3 linked regions of the Homo sapiens genome follow. The protein of the gene in region 3 interacts with the protein of the main gene of each other region in a biochemical or structural test. Each region holds a gene or a part of one and is shown on either strand. Other genes may lie near its edges.

Region 1 (7,098 bases), on a different chromosome or scaffold from region 3:
TACATTGGGAAAAGAACTTTTCTTTCAACTTGTGTTTAATGAATTGAATTTTAGAGACAGTTTCCCATAACTTGGGTCTATGCTATCCTATTAATTTTTATGTCTAGGTACTTGAAATGTTCCATTTCTGTGTATTTTTTTATTTTCTGTCCTATGACAGTTCTACGCTAAAGGTATTTTAAAATAAAAGCCAAATTGGCCGGGCGCAGTGGCTCATGCCTGTAATCCCACCACTTTGGGAGGCCGAGGTGGGCAGATAATCTGAGGTCGGGAGTTCCAGACCAGCCTGACCAACATGGAGAAACCCTGTCTTTACTAAAAATACAAAATTAGCCGGGTGTGGTGGCGTATGCCTGTAATCCCAGCTATTCAGGAAGGCTGAGGCAGGAGAATCACTTGAACCCGGGAGGCAGAGGTTGCAGTGAGCCGAGATTTAGAGATCGCGCCACTGTACTCCAGCCTGTGCGACAGAGCAACACTGTCTCAAAAAAAAAAAAAAAAAGAATTACAACCATATAGAAATGTACAAAGTAAAGAAAAAATGTACTAAGAAATATTATTCATAGTGGGTACTCACCACTGGGTGCAGTGGCTTATGCCAGTAATCCTAGCACTTTAGGAGGCCAAGACAGGCAGATCACCTGAGGTCAGGAGTTCGAGACCAGCCTGACCAACATGGTGAAACCCCGTCTCTACTAAAAACACAAAAATTAGCCAGCTGTAGTGACGCACACCTGTAATCCTAGCTACTCAGGAGGCTGAGGCAGGAGAATCACTTGAACCCAGGAGGTGGAGGTTGCAGTGAGCCAAGATCGCGCCATTGCACTCCAGCCTGGGAGACAAGAGTGAAACTCTGTCTCAAAAAACAAAACAAAACAAAAGAAGGCGGTACTCTTACATTCTTTACCATAATACAGTAATTTTTTAAAAGTTAATTTAGAACTATTCTGTTATTTAGATGTCCTTGTATTTAGAAACTTAGATAAGTATTCTTCTATAGTTTTTTAAATTTAAAAGCTGTATACTTTTGCCACACTAGGAAAATTCAACCAGTGAATTTTGCAATTTAACCATAAAAACATTGATGAAATAACTAGAGCCTAAGTCAACTAGGAAGAAGGTGAGATGTTACATACAATTTTCGGTCAAATAAATAACCTATATTTTTACATTTTAAGGTCTATCAAGTGCTTATACAAATATTACTTGATATAACAACCATAACCTAATTTACAAATGAAGAAACTGAAGTTTAGAAGGTTAAGACACCTGCCCAAAGTCACACAGCTAGAAGGTAATGCAATCTGAACTAAGACCAGGCCTCTAGGGTAGGATGTTTGTAGTTTAGTGCAAGACCAAGTCTTATGCATCCAAACAGAACATAAAACAAGTCATCAGAGAGTCTAAGAAAAACCATTCTTTAAGTTAATCCAACAGGCAAAAGGAGAATTTTTAAAGAAAAATACATAAAACTGGAAAAAGAAAACAGCCCTTAATAGAGGCAAACATTATTTTTATTTTATTTTTGAGATGGAGTCTCACTCTGTCGCCAGGCTGGAGTGCAGTACCGCTATCTTGGCTCACTGCAACCTCTGCCTCCCGGGTTCAAGCAATTTATACTTTTAAAAGGTACCCAAGAAAGGAAAGTTTGTGAAACACCTGGAAAATAAGAGAATTAGAGAAACATTAAAGAAAAAAAAATTAAAGTCAGAAAAAAATACTAACATGAAGCAAAGAAAGCTTTGACTGGAGACAGCTGCAAACACTAAGATTCAAGATTAGGAAGGAAAAAAGTAAGGTCAGCATCAAGAGATGGGCTTCAAGGCTGACTGAGAAAAGGGACATTCATGGGGCTGACAAAATTTTCCTATCACAGCCATATTCCAACATACAAAGCAGCTCCAGTGATTTAGCTCTTAGACGGGCATATCCAAAATGTTACTGAGTACAAAGGACAACATCACTAGGTTAGACAAGTGCACGACAATCATAAAAATAACTCTAAGGCCGGGCACGGGGACTCACGCCTGTAATCCCAACACTTTGGGAGGCCGAGGCGGGTGGATCACCTGAGTTCTGGAGTTTGAGACCCGCCTAGACAATATGGTGAAACCCTGTCTCTACTAAAAATACAAAAATTAGCTGGGCGTGGTGGCACGCGCCTGTAATCCCAGCTACTCAGGAGGCTGAGGCATGATAATCCCTTGAACCCGCCTGGAGGTTGCAGTGAGCCGAAAATGCACAGTGATCAGGCCATTGCACTCCAGCCCGGACTCTGTCGCAAAAAAACAAAACAAGCCAGGTGCGGTGGCTCACGCCTGTAATCACAGCACTTTGGGAGGCTGAAGCGGGCAGATCACCTGAGATACGGAGTTCGAGACCAGCCTGACCAACATGGAGAAGCCCTGTCTCTACTAAAAATACAAAATTAGCTGGACACGGTGGCGCATGCCTGTAACCCCAGCTACTAGGGAGTCTGAGGCAGGAGAATCGCTTGAACCCGGGAGGCGGAAGTTTCGGTGAGCTGAGATGGCGCCTTTGCACTTCAGCCTGGGCAGAAGAGCAAAAACTCCGTCTCAAACAACAACAACAACAACAAACAAACAAAACTCTAGTTCTTCAAACTAGAACCTCAGCTTGCAGGGAACGTGTGGGGCCTCAGGCTAAGCTGTAAAGCCTTAGGTAACACTTAAAACTAGTAACTTAAGTTGACCTGGGAAAGCCTGCTACGACAAAAATATCCTGGTACTTGGGTACTAACAGCAGTCAGAATTCGGTTCTTCCTTATCTTATACGTGTTCTAACCAAACAGGTGTGAAGGGGTAAGGCAGGTGAAGCAGTAAGAACTGGTTCACCTGAGAGTAGGCACTAATTTAACGGGTGGCTTTTACCTTTTTTTTTTTTTTTTTTTGAGACGGAGTCTTGCTCTGTCACCCAGGCTGGAGAGCAATGCCGCGATCTCGGCTCACTGCAACCTCCGCCTCCCGGGTTCAAGCGATTCTCCTGCCTCAGCCTCCCGAGTAGCTGGGATTACAGGCACGCGGCACCACACCCGGATAATTTTGTATTTTTATTAGAGATGGGGTTTCTCCATATTGGTCAGGCTGGTCTCGAACTCACGACCTCAGGTGTTCTGCCCACCTCGGCCTCCCAAAGTGCTGGGATTACAGGCGTGAGCCACCGTGCCAGGCCTACCTTTTTAATCAAAACAAACAATACACCATGAGAATAAAATGCAAAATTTCTCATTTTTAAGACAAAATAAGGAACTTCAAATAAATGGCGGACCATAAGCTAGGAATTCACTGTCCTCCATCGTTAGGGCTTTTTCCTCCGAAGGAAGTTTGGGAAATCTGGATCCTAATTTCAGCCAAGTGGTGCGTTCCTCGAACTTCAGTCTAGAACTAAAAGAAGAGGGGCTGCAATGAAGGAAGAAGTCTCGGGACGCTCCACGCCACCCGGCGGCGGTTATCAAATCACAGGCTGAAAACCTGGAGAAAGGTCCGCGACGCCGGGGACACACGCCGCAGAGGCGACGCCCGCCCGGCCCAACGTCCAGTCTCGTCTGTTTCCCGAGGAGCCAATCAGCACGCGGCCCCGAGGCCGGCTCCCCAGCGCCCCCTGCGGCCGGGAGGAGGACGGCAGCCAGGAAAGATGAAGAGCGCGTGCAGTCCCCGAAGGGTACACCCTAGGGTTCCCCCCCACGCGAAGTTTCTCTCCGCAATCCGTGCCACCTATCGAGTAGGATTCCTAGTGTTCGATTCCTGTGAGAAAAGGTAGACTACGCTGCCTGTCGCAGGTTAGTTTGTTGTAAAACTGTTGGTCAATGACGTTGCCCTTTTAATTGCGTCGTTAGCGACCGAGTGGCATCGCCCCTTTAAGGCCGGTGGCAGCTGCGGTTCCGGGGGCGGGGTCCGTCTTCAGCAGGACTTGGGCTGGAGCTGGGCTGATTCATTCGGGGCTGGAACTCGAACGCTGACGTTGGCTCCTGAGCCGGGCGCTGCCTCGCGCCTGATTGGCGGGTCCTCGGGGCCGCCCTCCCCAGCGCACCACCCCTGGGTTCCCTCCCGGGTCCGCAGTGGAAACACTGCCCTCTCCCTTCTTGACCCCTAGCCCTTCCTTCCCTCCCTCCTTCCCTCCTGTCGCCGTCTCTTCTGGCGCCGCTGCTCCCGGAGGAGCTCCCGGCACGGCGATGGGTTCTCGGGCCTCCACGTTACTGCGGGACGAAGAGCTCGAGGAGATCAAGAAGGAGACCGGCTGTGAGTTCGGGTTGGGGGTGGGAACGCCGGGCGCCTCAGGCTGGCCTCACAACCAAGGGCGGCTGTCGCTAAGGTCTGGAGCTCGGGTGCCTGTGAGGTTGGGGGGTCCTGGGCAGCCTCCAGGTTTGGGGACCGAGAGCTGGAAGACCTGTTCTTCCAGCTGCAGCTTCCTGGAGCGGGGCTCTAGCTACTGTGGGGCTGTCCTTCCCTTCAAAATCGGGACTCTTGATCACTCGTAGAGCGTCGACGCCCCCCTTTTCTGCACCCTGCCCATCAAAGTCCCCGAACTCCTTTCCTTTCTGTTGCCTCGCACCACCCTTCCCTATGAAGAGGCATCCTGAACAGTAGGTAAAGCCCGAGAAGCAAATTCAGGAACTCGAGATGGATTCTGTAGAAAATCCGTTTCTGGGTAAGGACCTAAAACCTCTGACAACTATGGGAAATTACAAACAAGTTCTTGTCACAAATTGGGAAAACCACCCAGAAAGCAAGACCGTGTAGTAAGGCTTTGGGAGACATGACCCGATGCCTGGAGACCTTTAAACAATCAGGGGTCTGGGATTGTGAGACTTCTTTCAATCTGAACTTCTAGAGAAAAAACACGGATACTGTGACCACCAGTTTTTTACTTACACGACGATACTTGCTGTCCTAATCTCATATATGTATTGATTTCTACTATGCTGGTGTACTTTTTTATTCGCTATTGAAATTGGATGTGCTCCAAAAATCTCCGTGTGAATTTGTACTAGGAACTGATTTTTTTTTTTTTTTTTTTTGAAACGGAGTCTCCCTCTGTCAACCAGGCTGGAGTGCAGTGGCGTGATCTCGGCACACTGCAACTTCCGCCTCCCAGGTTCAAGCAGTTCTCCTGCCTCAGCCTCCCAGGTAGCTGGGAGTACAGGTGCCTGCCACCACGCTTGGCTAATTTTTGTATTTTTGGTAGAGATGGGGTTTCACTATGTTGGCCCGGCTGGCCTCGAACTCCTGACCTCAAGTGATCCACCCACCTCGGCCTCCCAAAGTGCTGGGATTACAGGTGTGAGCCACCGTGCCCTGCAGAACTGATTTTTTTTTTTATAGTCCAGTCTCTTCCTCATTAGTCTGAACAAAGGAGCAAAAGGACTCGGGATTCTGAAGCGCTGTAAAATACCATCATAACTTTGAATAGTCCTTGATAATGCAATGTATGATACAATTGTATTGATGCATACAATATTTTATCTTTTCAGTAAACCTTTATGATTCTTATTGAGTTAATGAAGGATGTAGCACCTGAGCTCTGTCTCTTCATCATACTTGTCTTTGATAATGACATGACCAGTAACTCACTCCGGCCCATATGCAGATAGTACTGAGGAGTGCTATGGGGAACTACAGAATTTTTCAGGCCTGTTTAAGTGCTGTTCTCTGCTTTGTGACAAGTTCAACTTTCTGGAGTTTTCAAGTTGGAAGGGATGTTTTCTAGCCCCACCCCTTTCTGGACTGGTTTGCTTCTTTCAGCCTCCCCTAAAATATGGCCCTTAAGCCTCTCTGTAAAGACATTTAATGATGGTAACCTCTCCACCTACCAAGGCAGTCCTTTTCACGATTTGAATGACCCAAAGTAGTTAGCTCTTTATAATTTGCAGTACTTGTTTGGCCACTGACTTACTCTGACCCTCGGAGTGGAGACGCAAGCAGTTTGGATTCAACAAGCATTTTATTACGTTTTGTGGCCATAACTTCTGGCCACATTTGTAATTAGTACTACTTTAGGTCTAGGGTGACACCGAATTAAAGTATTTGTGTTAAAGAGTCACATGGAGAAATAAGCAGAATCAAAGAGAAATAAATATAGAGTCACATAATGAGAAAGTGTAAACCATAGTGAAGATGCAAAAAGCCATTTTTGCTTCAGAATGAAGGGAGCAGTAATCCCATTCTGGTTTATATACATTTGACCAAATGGAAATGACCTGGATGGGATATTTTTACCATGTGGCTTGTGGACAAACAACTAAGTGCTCATGGAAAAGCTGTTTTCCCCATTGCCAAAGAGTGAGTCACTTGTGAGGGAGATTCTCTCCACAACCAGTGCAAATGTATGTATTGAGCCAGAATGCTTAGTGAAACAAGTGCTTACTGAATTTTTACAGTGTCTGTTCAGTACTGTGCTAGGTACTCAGAGCAGATGGTGACAAAAAACGCCCCCAACCTGGTTGGGGAGATAAGCCCAAGAGAGTTATGATTAGCATCATGACATAAGAAAGCTGAGAATTGTGTGTCATCCACCTTCAGAAATCAGGCAAGAGAGAGAGTCCTTGTGGGCTGTCCTCATGGAGGACAGGAATTGGGCCTTGATACATGGGTGGAGTAGATTTGGATAGATTAACCTAGGGCATTTTGGGTGACTTCCAGGAGAGATCTCCCCCTAAGCCTGCTACAAAGTCATTCCTTTGCCCTGGGAACCATCAGTTTATCCAAATAGTGTCCATCATCAGAGTTGTTTTTTCTTTTTCTTTTTCTTTATTTTAGAGACAGGGTCTTTGCTCTGTCTCCCAGGCCGGACTGCAGTGGCTTGAGCATAGCTCACTGCAAGCCTTAAACTCCTGGGCTTAAGCCATCCTCCCGCTTCAGCGTCCCAAGTAGCTAGGACTACAGGCGCATACCACCATGCTTACCTGATTTTTATTTTTATCTTTTGTAGAGATGGAGTCTTGTTATTTTGTCGAGGCTGGTCATAAACTCCTGGCCTCAAGTGATTCTTAGGCCACTTCAACCTCCCAAAGCACGGGGATTACAGGTGTGAGCCACTGCGCCAAGCCCAGAGTTGTTTTTTCAAGGAGTAATTTGGTAT
Region 2 (7,663 bases), on a different chromosome or scaffold from region 3:
TGAGGTGGGAGGATCATCTTAGCCCAGGAAGTTGAGGCTGTGGTGAGCCATGATCACTCCACTGCACTGCATCCTGGGTGATAGGAGACCCTGTCTTAAGAAAAAAAAGAAAAAATAAGAAACCCTGTACACTTTAGCTATTATCCCTGACTCCCACCTACCTCCCTTAGCCCTCGGCAATCACTAACCTACTTTTTGTCTCTACGGGTTTGCCTATTCTTAACATTTCATGTAAGTGCAATCATATAATACGTGGTCTTTTGTGACTGGTTTATTTTACTTAGCATAGAGTTTTCAAGGTTCATCCATTTTGTGGCATATATAATACTTCATTACTTTTTATGGCCAAATGATATTCCGTTGTATCAATATACCATGTTTTACTTATCCATTCATCAGTCAAACATTTGGCTTATTTCCAATTTTTGGCTGTTATGAATAGTGTCGCTATGAATATTCACTACAGGTTTTTGTTTGAGCTCCTATTTTCTTTCTTTCTTTCTTTCTTTCTTTCTTTCTTTCTTTCTTTCTTTCTTTCTTTCTTTCTTTCTTTCTTTTTTTTTTTTGAGCCGGAGTCTCGTTCTGTTGCCCAGGTTGGAGTGCAGTGGTGCAATCTCGGCTCACTGCAACCTCTGCCTCCCAGGTTCAAGTGGTTCTCCTGCTTCAACCTCCCAAGTAGCTGGGATTACAGATGCGTGCCACCATGCTTGGCTAATTTTTTTGTATTTTTAGTAGAGATGGGGTTTCATTATGTTGGCCAGGCTGGTCTTGAACTCCTGACCTCAAGTGATCTGCCCACCTCTACCTCCCAGAGGGCTGGGATTACAGGTGTGAGCCACTGTGCCTGGCCTGAGCCCCTATTTTCAATTCTTTTGGGTGTATACCTAGGAGCAGAATTGCTGGGTCACATGGTAATTTTGTTTAGTGTATTGAGAAACTTTCAAACTGTTTTCCACAGTAACTGAACCATTTTACTTTTCCATCAGCAATGAATGAGGCTTCCAACTTTTTCATAGCCTCACTAAGACTTGTTTTTGTTTGTTTTAATTCCAGCCATCTTAGTGGGTATGAAGTGATATCTCATTGTGGTTGGTTTGTATTTCCCTGATGACGAATGATGTGGGGAATCTTTTCATGTACTTATTGGCTAAACATATATGTTTTTTTGGAGAAATGTCTATTCAAGTCCTTTGCCCGTTTAAAAAGTTGGGTCATTTATCTTTTTATTATTGAGTGCTAATTGTTCTGTATTTTCCTGACTATTCCTGGATGTTCATTCTTCTAGTTGAACCTTCACCAAGAATGACTAGCGGCCAGGCGTGGTGGCTCATGCCTGTAATCCCATCACTTTGGGAGGCCGAAGTGGGCAGATCACTTGAGGTCAGGAGTTCGAGACCAGCCTGGCCAACATGGTGAAACCCCATCTCTACTAAAAATACAAAAATTAGCCAGGTGTGGTGGTGCATGCCTGTAATCCCAGCTACTAGGGAGGCTGAGGCAGGAGAATTGCTTAAGCCCAGGAGGCAGAGGTTGCAGTGATCTGAGATGGCGCCACTGCACTCCAGCCTGGGCAACAGAGTAAGACTCTGTCTCAAAAAATTAAATAAGAAAAAAAAAAAAAGAATGACTAGCAACTTTTACATAGCTGAAAAGCAAAAACCAAATATTCCTCCTGACTCTAGTCTAACAGATTCTGCAGATAAAATTTTCCCCAAAGCATCTTCCCGCTTAAATGACCTGAAAAAACTGTGAAGTTGATTTAAGTCTCACTTGTGTACATGAAACAGAAATGAGTTCTAGCATAGCCTGCTCTCTCTCTCTTTCTTTTTTTTTCTTTTTGAGATGGAGTCTTGCTCTGTTACCCAGGCTGGAGTGCAGTGGTGTGATCTTGGCTCACTGCCACACCTGCCTCCCAGGTTCAAGTGATTCTCCTGCCTCAGCCTCCCAAATAGTTGGGATTACAGGCGCCTGCCACCACACCCAGCTAATTTTTTGTATTTTTAGTAGAGACGGGGTTTCACTGTGTTAGCCAGGATAGTCTCAATCTCCTGACCTCATGGTCTGCCCGCCTCAGTCTCCCAAAGGGCTGGCATTATAGGTGTGAGCCACTGTGCCTGGTCCAGCCCTCTCTTAAAAGCTTGTGTATGATGTGTGCATGGGAGTTCCTAATTACTCTCCGGCCTAATTTACTTTGGTGTAGCACTGACTCCAATATTAAGGCTGGAGAAGCCCTTTCCAAGATCAGCATCCCAAGCTGGCCTGCGGTGCTTATCACAGCTTCTTAGGGCTCTCATCTCCTCCTGGGTTCAGAACTGAACCCAAACTACATGCACAGCCTGACTCACAGCTGTGGGTTGCAGTGATTGCTGGGCTTCATTAGGGAGGAGTGTGGTTTCCCGCATGCTTAGTCTTTGGGGGGAGTCTGAAAGAGAATCAAGCATTCCTTATGCCAGTTGCTTAATCCTTGGGGGTATCTGAAAGAAGCAAGCACTTCTTAGATCAATATTTTCAAGACTTATCTGATGCAGGCCTCTGCCTGGGGCTGGAGGATAGACTGTTTCTTCAGCTTCTCTCTCTCCAGGGTGGATATGAACTTGAGCCCTTGCAATGAACTGCTTGCATGTTTTCCCCCCTGGGAAATTTGTGTATGTATGTGCAATTATGATGGGGGAAACGGTTTAAAGATACTTTCAAAAGTGGACACTTCTAGTGTTTGTCCCTTGACAAATGAGTTTCTCGACCTGTTTTTTTTTCATTATCAACGCCTCCCCTAGTCTTTTTAATTTCCCCACCCTCACCCCTACCCCATGAAATTTTATTTTCTTTCTTTTTTTTTTTTTGAGACCAAGTTTCGATCTTTTTGCCCAAGATGGTGTGCAATGGCGCGATCTAGGCTCACCTCAATCTCCACCTCCCGGGTTCAAGCGATTCTCCTGCCTCAGCCTCCCGAGTAGCTGGAATTACAGGCATGCACCACCACGCCCAGCTAATTTTGTATTTTTAGTAGAGACTGGGTTTCTCCATGTTGGTCAGTCTGGTCTCAAACTCCTGACCTCAGGTGATCCGCCCGTCTCGACCTCCCAAAGTGCTGGGATTACAGGCATAAGCCACCGCGCCCGGCCTCTTTTCTTTTCAAGACAGGGTCTCACTCTGTCACCCAGGCTGGAGTGTAATGGCGTGATCATGGCTCCCTGCAGCCTCAACCTCCTGGGCTCAAGTGATCCTCCTGTCTCAGACTCCCAAGTAGCTGAGACTACAGGCATGTGCCACGACACCTGGTTAATTTTTTTTTTTTGTATTCTTTTGTAGAGATGGGGTCTCACTATGTTGCCTAGGCTGGTCTTGAGCTCCTGGGCTCAAGCAATCCTCCTGCCTCTACCTCCCAAAGTGCTGGGATTACAGGCATGAGCCTCCACGTCTGCCCTGAAATTTCAATATCACAGCTATACTGTATATCTATTTATGTGCTGTATGTATGCTGTGCTTTGTACATAAAAAATATGTTTTATTTTTTGCCCCGTTGGGGTGAGATAGAGACCGCACTGAGAATGCACGCTTTACATAATTAGTTCACAACTTGCCCCCGGCAGCCTCCACCACGTAAAATTAGAAGAAAGCAGCCCAGCAGGGCCTACAAGGAATGTGTGAACGGATGCACGTAAAGTGCTTAGCAAAGCGTGGTAAACAAGAGCCCTTGTTGTCATTCTTGCTTTAAGCCTAGTCCCAGTGATGTCTGTAACCCTCTCTTGGGCCAAGGAGTCCCATGGCTCTGGAGGGCTGTTCAGAGGACTAAGTCATTCCCAGTCTGGAGCTCTACGGGATCAGTAGGTACCTAAGGGAGTGAATTGGGCTTGGAGGGACTGTGGCCAGAAGACAGCTCTGGGCCTGGTGGTGATAGAACTTCTGATTTCTCAGGAAAAGCCAAGAATGTGGATTTTGGGTTAAATCTCCTGAATTTTAAGCATTGGCTCAATTAAACAACAATAAGGCAATGTGAACCGAACAAAAGGGATGAAACCAAGATTTACTGACTTTCCCAGAGTCACGGGCACGGCTGGGATTCCAACAAGGACTCCCAAACCAGTGCTCTTTCCACTTAACCTAACGCACACCCTTCATCTCGCCGCCCCTCCCCACTTCCCCGTCTTTGGGAGTTCTTCGATGCCTCTTCCCCCCTCCCCCCAGGATTCCCTCCCCATAGGCCACCCGCCTTCCAGCAGGGCGTGGTCTCTACAGAGGAGGTCAGGTCTCCCAGGCTTCCTCAGCGTCGACGCCGGGGAGCGCCCTGGGGTTGGGAGCGCCCGGGGCCCGCGAAGGAGGAGGTGGCTCAGGTGTCAGGGCGCACCGTGGGAACCGGCCCCGGGGGAGGCGTGGAAACGCGGGGCCTGGGACTCGACCAGCCTCTCCCGTGCGGATCGCAAAATCTCGGAGCTGAAACAGCCCGTTGTTCGCAGCCTCCCTCTGACCCGCCACCCTGCACATTGTTTTCCATTCGCCCGGGTCGCGGGTGGGAGGAGAGGCACGCCGGGGTTCTGGAGCTTGGCCGCGCGCCAGGCTTGTGGCCTTCGTCCCCCTGGGGCCACTGGGGCGGCCACGCCTCTCCGGCGGGAGGAGAGAACGCGTGGGTCCGGGTGGCTGCTCCGGCCCTTCCGCCTCCAGCTCGGCCATGGGGTCGCGCAGCTCCCACGCCGCGGTCATTCCCGACGGGGACAGTATTCGGCGAGAGACCGGCTGTGAGTGCGCCCGCGTCGGCGGCTGCGGAGGGGACGGGGCGAACCCAGGCGTCTGGGGCTAGGGAAGGGGTTGGGTTGAAGGATGGACGAACTTACAAGTCTGGGGTCCGGGGCTCCCCGGAGCTGGAAGACCAAGGCCCCTGTGCCTGGGATCGCTGGGTTAGGGGCGGGTTAACCTAGGGGTCCCAGCCTCCAAGTCTGGGGAGGATCCGGGTTCACGGGGTCGGAGTCCAGAGGAATCCAGGCACCCAGGTGTCCTCCAGCCCGGCTCGAAGCTGAAGGCAGAGCTGACGGCGGTTGGAAGGGATGGCTTTGGTTCTTTGGTTTTCGGGAGGTTGCGAGCCGCCCGGGTCTTGAACCTGGATCTTCGCGGGGTCGTGTCACTCTCCCTCCGCCCCGGCCAGCTCAACCCCTGATTCCCCGGGATGATCGCCCCTTCCAGCCAGCCCCCGCTGTTCTGGCCCATCTTCCTGGCCTGTTGGGGCGGGTTTCTGGAGCTGGCCCTGCAGAGTCACACACCCCCACCCCACTCTCCTTCCCGCAGTCTCCCAAGCCAGCCTGCTCCGCCTGCACCACCGGTTCCGGGCACTGGACAGGAATAAGAAGGGCTACCTGAGGTGAGGGGGAGCCGGCCTCATAACTTCTGGCCTCTGTCTCTCTGACTCCATGTCCCTCTTTGACCCTCCGTCTGGCATCTCTGCCTTACCCTCTTTGAAATTTGGCTTTGCAGCCGCATGGATCTCCAGCAGATAGGGGCGCTCGCCGTGAACCCCCTGGGAGACCGAATTATAGAAAGCTTCTTCCCCGATGGGTGAGGCTTGCTGGGCGTGGGGAGGTGAAGGCGGGAAAACCGGTGTGTGAGTGGGTGGGAGGGGAGGTTAGAGACGGAGGCAAAGTGATGGCCAAGGTGACCACCACCTCTTTCCATTCTGTCCCGTCTCCCCAGGAGCCAGCGAGTGGATTTCCCAGGCTTTGTCAGGGTCTTGGCTCATTTTCGCCCTGTAGAAGATGAGGACACAGAAACCCAAGACCCCAAGAAACCTGAACCTCTCAACAGCAGAAGGAACAAACTTCACTGTGAGTTTGTGAGGACCTGCACAAGTGAGAATGCAGATGTACCCACACCAGGGACAGGCTCCAGGGATCTCCCACTCCCTTCCTGAGGGCATTGACAACCTCCCCCCTCCTCCAAGGTGGGGGGAAGGAAGGTGGCTGCTGGAAGAGAGCCAGGGAAGACCTACCTTCCTTTCCCCCTCCCACCCTCTCCCCAGATGCATTTCAGCTCTATGACCTGGATCGCGATGGGAAGATCTCCAGGCATGAGATGCTGCAGGTTGGCAGAAAGCGAGAGCAAGAGATGTGATGTGTGAAGGATGGGATGGTTAAATGCAATGGTGTGAGAGATGGGGTGGGATGATTGGGGAACTGGGGCGCAGATAATTGGGGTATTGGTTGGGAAATGGGAATGGGTGCAGTTAGAGTGTGGGTTTGTTGGGAGTCGGAGTGGGGAGCAGTTGACTATGAGGTTGGGAATAGATCAGTGATTCTCAACTGGGGGTGATTTTGCTCCCTGAGTGAATATCTGGCAATATCTGGAGATGCTTTTTGTTGTCACAATGGGGGAGAGAGTGTGCTACTGGCATCTAGTGGGTAGAGGTCAGGAATGTGGCTATATATCATGCAATACCCAGGAGAGCCTCTTCCAACAAGGAGTTACCTGGCTCCAAATGTCAACAGTGCCAAGATTGAGAAACTCTGGAACAGATGTGATGGAATGAGGATGGAATTAGAAACCCTTAGTGGCTAAGGTGGAGAATGGTGTGGAGGATGGATGGAGGTTGGGTGATAAAGTTGGGTAATGAGTTTGAGCATATTTTGAGGGTAGTGCAGGATGGTGAGGGAGAGATAGGAGATTGGTTGTTGAAGCAGTAGGGAAAATTATTGGGGGATATGGTGAAAAATGGATGAAGGATGGATTATAAAATTAGCAATAACTTTTGGGATGAGGTGGGCAAGGTTTAGGAGATGGGGAGTTGCAGCCTTCGTGCCCCCTCCTTATGGCTGCCTCTTCACTCATCTCTCAGGTTCTCCGTCTGATGGTTGGGGTACAGGTGACAGAAGAGCAGCTGGAGAACATCGCTGACCGCACGGTGCAGGAGGCTGATGAAGATGGGGATGGGGCTGTGTCCTTCGTGGAGTTCACCAAGGTCAGAGTGCCCTTGGGGATTGGGGAGTTGAGATCAGGAGTTCTGGGGCAGACAGACTTGGGAAACGTTCAACGGAGGAGGGCGGAAAGATAGGGGTTGCCTGGGAATGATGGGGTCTCTGGAATGGGTAGAACCCTGGGGGAGGAGGTTGGGAGCATGGAGAGCTGAGAGTCAAGCCTCTTGCCTGCCATTTGTTTTTCCCTCAGTCCTTAGAGAAGATGGACGTTGAGCAAAAAATGAGCATCCGGATCCTGAAGTGACTCCGTTTGTGCCTTGGGCTTGCTCCTGCAACCAGTATCTCCTTGGAATTCATCCAAAGCCCCCATGGACGCATGGACGCAGGGCGACAATAAACTGTATTTTCGTTTCTAACTCTATTTAGGGCCAAGAGAAGAAAGCTGGAAGGATGTGTACTAAAGTCTAGCTCAGCAGTCCCCAACCTTTTTGGCATCAGGGACAGTTTTTCCACGGATGGGTGACAGGGGATGGTTTTGGGATGATTCAAGTGCATTACATTTATTGTGCACTTTATTTCTATTATGATTACATTGTAATATATAATGAAATAATTATACAACTCACCATAATGTAGAATCAGCAGGAGCCCTGAGCTTGTTTTCCTGCAATTAGACGGTCCCATATGGGAGTGATGGGAGACAGTGACAGATCATCAGGCATTAGATTCTCATAAGGAGTGCACAATCTAGATCCTTTGGTGTGCAG
Region 3 (7,608 bases):
ACCCTCAATTAGTCCCATGAGGGAAGACAGGATATAGCAATCTAAATTATAAGGCACCCACTGGGGAGAGGATGTCTGGCCATTCCTTTCCTGCCACTGGGCTCTATGTGTGAGCGGGTTTCTATGAACAGATGACAAGAACCACAGGGATTCTTGGGACTGGCACCAAAAAGGGGTCAGGAAGGCAGGTCAGAGAAGGTCAAGTTTCTACAACCAATATAGTTATCTGAATAATTAGATCAAAACTGTCAGGTATCCAATAGCTTGCTGCGGACCTAAAATTCCAGGATGATTCTTTTAACTCTCTGCTTTGCAAATGAAAACTGTTTATATTTTCCCTTCACCATCACAAGTATAAACAGGAAAGCGCACAGCACCCTGCGATACTCTGGTGCACCTGTGAATGGATCTTTTCTGAGAAATTAAGTTAACTGATAATTATTATTTGGATCATATTTCCATTTATTTAGATCTTCTTTAAACAATTTTTTTTAGAATACAAGTGTGACACTTTTTTGATAAACTTATTCCTAAGAATTGCATTTTTTGATGCTATTATAAATGGCATTATTTTCTTAATTCCATTTTGTTTTATTCATTGTCACTATAAAACACAATTTGTTTTTGCATATTGATCTCATATCCTACAAGCTTGTTAAACTCATTTATTATATCTAATAGTTTTTTAGTCAATTATTCAGGATATTCTGTTTAAATATTTTAGAGTAATCTATTTAAAAGATCATGCAAGTGGAAATAGTTTGACTTTTTTTCCTTCCAATCTGAATGCCTTTTGTTTCTTTTCATTGTCTAAATGCCCTGACTAAAAGCAGCTCTAGTAGAATATTGAATGGAAGTGGCAAGAGTGTATCTCTTTGTCTTGTTCCTGTTCTTTCAGGGAAATGTATTTAGTCTTTTCCCTTTAAGTATGATGTTGGCTGTGTATTATCATGTTGAAGAAGTTTCCTTCCATTCCTGACCTGTAGAGTGTTTTTAAAATAAAAGGTTGTTGATTTTGTCAAATGCTTTTCTCAGTCTGTTGAAATGGTCATGTGGTTTTGCCTTAATTCTATTGACATGTATGTTATATGAAATAATTTTTAAATATTAAACCAACCTTGCCTTCCTGAGATAAATCCCACTTTGTATAAATAAGTTTGAATTGTTACATCTTCTTGATAGATTGACACTTTTCTTTTTCTTAAATGTCCCTCTTTATCTCTAGTAACATTTGTTATTTTAAAGCATATTTCGTCAGTGTAAAGCCACTCAAGTTCTCTTAGCATAGTGTTTGTGTAATATATCTTTTCTCATTTTTTTTTTTTTTACTTTCAACCTACTGGTATCTTTGAAACTAAAATGTGACTTCTGTAGACAGTATGTAGTCCATAATTTTTTTCTGCCTAAAAACTGGATATTTTAGATGATTTCTTGTAGCAATTCTTGATGCTGCTTTCTCCCCCTCCCCCAACTCCAGGGCTTGTTGTTGCTTAATTGTTTGCTGTTTGTTTAGTGACTTGGCTGGACTATATCAGCAAAGTCTATTTCCCTGTGCAGCTTTTTATACTGATCCTCAGCCAGTGAAGCCTGGGGCATGGTTATAATACCCCTAAGCCCTTTCTCCCTTCCCCCAGAATAACAATGGTTTTAGCAGGCTTCTCTGACTTTCTTTCACTGATATATTAAGCTTCTAGCTGGTCTGTTGTATCTATTGACATCACACTCAACTGTTAGCCTCCAGTAACTGCTGGCTGAAATGGCCTATTGTTTTCAACAATGCCTTGGGTTATAAATTACTCCACAGTCCGATCCAATTAAAGTCAGGCTCCTTTGCAGGGTAATCTTTGAGACCAGTCTCTGAGACATGTTATAGCCTCAGGAGAGCTCTTTTCAGCCATCTCTTTTTCTGGTTCTTCTGTTAAACTTCTAGTTGGTCTACTCTTTAACTTATTGCAATCATGGAGCTACTAGCTTTTCTTCCTTGCTCACAACCTAAATCTTCATTGTTTTTGACAGTGCCCTTAGGCTTGAACATCTCTATATTTTGTTCCAAATAAAGTTAGCATACTTAGAGTTAGTTATAGAGTTCTCTGTTCTATAGCCTGTCTCCTCTCCTTGGCAGAAACTCTGTTCCACTACTCTGGAGATGGGGATAGAGATAGTAACCTACTTCTCTTGGAGTGATACCCCTGGTGTGTGAGTGGGATGCTGGACTGGGGTAGTAGCCACTGGTCATCTTGGTTTATTTCCAGTGTTGTGAAAACTCAGTCTTATGAGTAAGTTGAGAGTTATCGGGGTCCAGTATTCCTAATTTGCTGTTTCTGGGGTAGATTCAGTTACATTTGCCTGCAATAGAGTCTGTTCAACATATTGCTAGGATTGGGGTAGGGCAGAGTTTGGTTACGTATGCTGACAACCTGACTTTTCTGGGTAGAAACTGTAGTCATAAACTGGGATCTGGGATTAGAGGCAGCCCCATCCTCGTGGCTACATTCATCCAGAATAGAGTTTTTCTCACATTGAGCTGAGGGGTGGGTAGAGAAAACAGGCCGTGCCTTCAGGTCTTACCAATATTTAGAAGATTTTTTTCAATTTCTGTCTGCTCTTAGGACAATTTCCAGAGACTGGATGGTTGTTTTTGATTTTTAATGATCTCACCAGTTATAGTTGTTTCACTAGGAAATCTATGGTGCTTCTTATGCTGTCATTCTAGAAGAGCTTCTCCTTTCTTCCCCCTTTCCCCTCACTTTTGCTGCCCTTAGTTTGCACTTCTCATGGAAGCTTTGTCTCACATACACTTTCTGGGGACCTTATACTAAGAAATCATTTTAGAAAGAATGTTCTGACATCTGTAAGAAAGTACTGCATGAGTGGAAGTGATGCCGATGGTTGATGAAGTGGGCTGCTACATCTTAACCTGGACCACAAGTTAGTAGACTGTTGCAGAGCTCAAGTTGTTCTCTTACCATCCTCCCAAGATTGGCATTTTTACTCTGAGAGGGACTGGACTATCAGCCATCAGGTGATCATAAGGCTAAACGGGTTGCCATATACTCACAAAATTTGGAATTTTAGAGCAGGAAAGGGTTACCAGGTATGGACAGCATCTTTATTTTATAGATGAGAAAACTATAAAGGCTCAAACTATAAGGCTCAAACAGGTAATTTTCCAAAGCCAATCAGATAACTAATGTCTGAGTACATAAGTCTTTTGATTCTTCATTTTGGTCTTTCCACAAGGCACTATGTGAGACTTGCTCCCTCATTTCTTTTTAGAAAGAAAAGTACAATAAAATGCAAATAAAAATAAAACACCTATTATAAAGCAGCTTTCTATTAAAGGATATTCATATATTCTTTGAGAAAAAATAATCGACTCAATATGTGTACCCTTCTTGTAGTCCACCTGATAGTCTCATTTCAGTGACTGAATCTAATCTATTCTGGAGTCAAACTGAAGGAAAAAGAAAAAATATTCATATGTGAACTTTTAATTCTATTGCCTCACTATGAATTTGCATCTAGGTGTTAGCCCTTCTCAACCATTCCTTTCTCAATTTCCCAGTGATGTTAGCTGAGTGTGTGTGTGTGTGTGTGTGTGTGTGTGTGTGTGTGTGTGTGTGTGTTGGCTGGGGGGAAATCCCCTGCACTCACTAATATGAACTAAGAAAAAACAAAACACAAAGCATCTTGCAGTTTGATGTAAAAGAGATGTTGGGGTAGTATATGGATGATGTATTATTCTCATTTTTTACTGAGTATCAGTAATCATTGCAAAAGTGTTGTATCTTATCCTAAAAGTATAAGAAATGTAATTTAAAATAAAAACTAACATTTAAGTGCCAACTACATGCCAAATTCTTTACTTGCTTTATCTCATTTAATGTTCCTAGCTACTCAATGAGGCAGATATTTTCCTCTCTGTTTCAGATAAGGAATTTCTGAAAGGTAATTAACTTCACCAAGGTCACCTGGCAACAAGTAGAAGAGCGAGAAGTAGGCTCATAAAAATTATCTCAAAATTCTTTCATCAACATTCTATGATGCTGCTTCTTTTTAACAACAACAAATGTTTTTTAAATGGAAAATCTGGATGTGCCATGGAGTTTTACAAATCCAGGTATTTAGGTGTATTTATGGAACTTGTTCTTTGGCTTCCTGTTTTTTAAAAATTATAGTGTAAAGTTCATAGAGATCTGGAACTTCATTCCTTCTATGAATGACTGCTCATGGAGTCTGGTAACATGCAAAAGTTTCAGTGTTTGCTACCATCCTTGTTGTTACCACCTCCTTCTTATCCTCCTTCTTCCTCATGTATAGAGACCATATAAGACAGTTTGCTGGACAATTCTGGTTTGTGCCTATAGCTTTGCATAATTATCATTATTATTCATTCCCCAAAGTGTCCTGGTTTAGATAATTTCATGGTCACCTTAACGTTCATAACTGAAAGTGTCAAGGGTGTTGTATTGCAGGTGCCCACTAGGTGTCAGCAGTGTGACCTCCAGAGAACCCTCAGAGAAAGGATTTCATTACAAAAGTCAAATCAAAGCAAATAATTAAGTGTAGTTCCAGAGCTACCTGAAGCCGTGGTCATTCAAAACAAATGAGAGGACAGGGGGAGGAGAGAAGGAACAAGCGCAGATCAGGTAGCTCCTTCTTGGGATCTGATAGACAGGGAAGGTTTCCTTTCCTCATTAGAAGGACTCCAGTGATCTGTGGAATGAGCACTACAGTATCCTTTTAAATTTTCACCCACAAGACAAAGCCAGTATGCAGTGAAATGAGGAAATGCCTTTAAGTGAAGAGATTTTTATTTCTTTCATAAATTGCTCAAGCCATGATTGGATGGAGGTCCTCCAGGTAGCTCCATGGACTTTAACAAGTCTATTGAATAACTGCATTTGAGTTGGAAGCTGAGTTGCCTGAACACAAACGATTTAAACCAGATTAGAAAGTGTCTACATACAGAGCTCAATAACACACTCGGAATCTTCTTGGGAGGACCCACAGACTGTACCTATATTACTTTTGACCCAGGTGGATGCAGTCACTCTCTAGAAGCCTCCCCGACTTCAGATGTGTGGCACACATCCACACAGGGGTGTAGGTAGGAGAAGCCCACAGGAATGGCTCTGCAGATGTTCGTGACTTACAGTCCTTGGAATTGTTTGCTACTGCTAGTGGCTCTTGAGTGTTCTGAAGCATCTTCTGATTTGAATGAATCTGCAAATTCCACTGCTCAGTATGCATCTAACGCTTGGTTTGCTGCTGCCAGCTCAGAGCCAGAGGAAGGGATATCTGTTTTTGAACTGGATTATGACTATGTGCAAATTCCTTATGAGGTCACTCTCTGGATACTTCTAGCATCCCTTGCAAAAATAGGTAAGTCCTTAAACACCTGGTTTGGTGAGTTATCTTTTTACATAAGATAGTGAATGTGAAAATGCCTTATAGATAACGGGCTAAGAGGATTTTAACTGTTACTGCTATTACATTAAAAATTCTCTTCCCTTCAGTCAAGGGAAAGTCATAACTGCATTTTACTAAGCTATTTAATACTTTGAGATTGCTCTTTGAAATTTGAGAGCATACTTCTGGGTACTGGGCTGTGTTGGTTTCTTCTCATTTCAGGGTGACAACCATGTGACATTGTTGACATGCAAAACTCTCAAATTCTATGCTTTAAAAATATAGAGAATAAAGCACGTAGACCTGGGCATGATGCAAGGTGGAAATTTCAGGAAACACATAATGTTTCTTCTGTAAAATATTCTTGGCTGTGTAATTGTGGGCTTCATCAATCACCCCATTGTTTATTCTTTAAAAGTAGCGTGTGCTTCTTGCAAATTGACAGAAAGCAAAAAACAAGAAAACCATAGGCAACTTGTATTACTCAGTGATGGGATGTCGGGGCATATAAGATTATATCTGTCAGTAAAATATTAGTTTATACCTACCAAGTGGGGCCAGTGAGGCACCTCTAATTTCCTTTGTGAAATAAAGTGAATCCAAGTTAATAGATTAAATTCCAATCAAGGGATCTTTGTGTCAAAAACCAAAGAGGTGGCTATACTCTGTGACTGTTTAATCCCTAACTGCTCCTCCTTATCTCTTTAAAACCAGCTTATTCTAAAGTGGAAAATTAATATAATTATCTCAAATGCTAAGCACAATGCCTCCTTTGCCTCAGCTATAAACTTTATGCTATTTGAGTATGTAGATTGCCTTATTGAGATAGAATCAATGAAACATTTTAATTCTCATTTATTTATATGTGTATGTTTTCTCTAGGATGGGTGTGTAATGTGGGTTGAGCCTTGAGGTCTGGCAGTTACCTTCTGTGTGCTCTGGCTATTCACTTAGCTCCCTCCCTGTGGGTGTGGGGACACTGGTATAGGTGTCCCCTTTAGACTCTCCTTTATAGTTGCTATTCATTTTGAGCTAGTAAAGTGTGAATATTAAATAGGAATGTTAGTTTGAAGAAGTCTTGTGCAATTTGCTTAGTGAATAAGTTACACAAAGGATCTTACTATATTTTTAAGAGGTATACAAGTAAAAATGGCTTTCCAAATGGATAACATTCTCAGTTCAGAACAGTCTAACATCTTTTGTGAAATCATATAGACACTGATTGTGTTCAAGGTGATCTTACTTGGTACTTGAGTTTTCCTTTTAAAACAATATGCTAGAGATTCTGTGTTCCCTGCTCCCCATTCCACAACCTGGCTTCCTCTTCACAGAAATGGCTCAAGTCAATCTGAGTACCAGGAAACTCGTCCTGTCACTGACTAGCTAGTTGCTCTGTTTATCAGTAAACATCTAAACGCAGAAAGGCTGCATTTTGTCTTGGTTTTATATTTGTGTAAAACCTAGCTTGTTTTGTAGAGGCATTGTATGCACCCAGATTCATTCTGTCTAGGAGCGAAGAACACTGTGAAAATACGATTATTCATAGAACTGTTGGTTTAAATGTTCTTGATTTTCATGATGTAATTTAACATACTTTAGAAAAAAAGAGTAGGATATCAGAACACGCTTATTCGAGTACAATTTCATATTTACTAGTCTTCAAGAATTTAGATTATTTTTATATTCCATATGGACATGAGGAGTGAGGAGATAAAAAGGCCATATTTATTGAATATATACTATGTGCCAATTACTGGGCTGGTAGTTTTATGTATAAGGGCTTGTTTACTAGGGCCAAAATAATAATGATGATGATGATTTATAATTTCAGCACTTAAGAAATGCATATGAGTTTTTAAAGATTATGTTATAAAACATGAATCAGAATAAAATTAATAATCATTATTATGATTCATTCTTTTATTCCTCATTCCATCAAGGTACATTTTCTGAGAACCCATGAAATATGTGGAAATGACCATGGTCCCTGACCTCAAGGGACTTGGTCTAACGGGGAAGATAGGTTAACTTAGTACTTATTGCCCATAGATACTCTGACAGAAAAACATCAAAACTCTCCCCCAATCCTTTTTAAAACACCCAACTATATGCACTTATAAAACAAAGATAATGTATAACAAAGATAATACAAAGCCACCTCAGACTTTGTGGTTTATCTTCTACTTCAGTTCCACA

The links.
Region 1: the proteins of SLC9A4 (region 3) and CHP1 form a complex in vitro, tested with the Homo sapiens proteins (one study listed by BioGRID).
Region 2: the proteins of SLC9A4 (region 3) and CHP2 form a complex in vitro, tested with the Homo sapiens proteins (one study listed by BioGRID).

The regions. Positions count from the first base shown.
Region 1 is NC_000015.10:41,227,191-41,234,288, forward strand, and holds the start of CHP1 (calcineurin B homologous protein 1), read left to right. Parts: upstream 1-4,077; 5' UTR 4,078-4,192; coding exon 4,193-4,259; intron 4,260-7,098. UniProt on the Homo sapiens protein: Calcium-binding protein involved in different processes such as regulation of vesicular trafficking, plasma membrane Na(+)/H(+) exchanger and gene transcription. Involved in the constitutive exocytic membrane traffic.
Region 2 is NC_000016.10:23,750,384-23,758,046, forward strand, and holds the start of CHP2 (calcineurin B homologous protein 2), read left to right. Parts: upstream 1-4,642; 5' UTR 4,643-4,666; coding exon 4,667-4,733; intron 4,734-5,277; coding exon 5,278-5,350; intron 5,351-5,463; coding exon 5,464-5,544; intron 5,545-5,679; coding exon 5,680-5,810; intron 5,811-6,004; coding exon 6,005-6,066; intron 6,067-6,817; coding exon 6,818-6,940; intron 6,941-7,146; coding exon 7,147-7,200; 3' UTR 7,201-7,663. UniProt on the Homo sapiens protein: Functions as an integral cofactor in cell pH regulation by controlling plasma membrane-type Na(+)/H(+) exchange activity.
Region 3 is NC_000002.12:102,468,631-102,476,238, forward strand, and holds the start of SLC9A4 (sodium/hydrogen exchanger 4 precursor), read left to right. Parts: upstream 1-4,595; 5' UTR 4,596-5,129; coding exon 5,130-5,385; intron 5,386-7,608. UniProt on the Homo sapiens protein: Electroneutral antiporter that exchanges sodium for protons or ammonium ions at the basolateral membrane of epithelia to regulate cell volume and intracellular pH upon hypertonic conditions.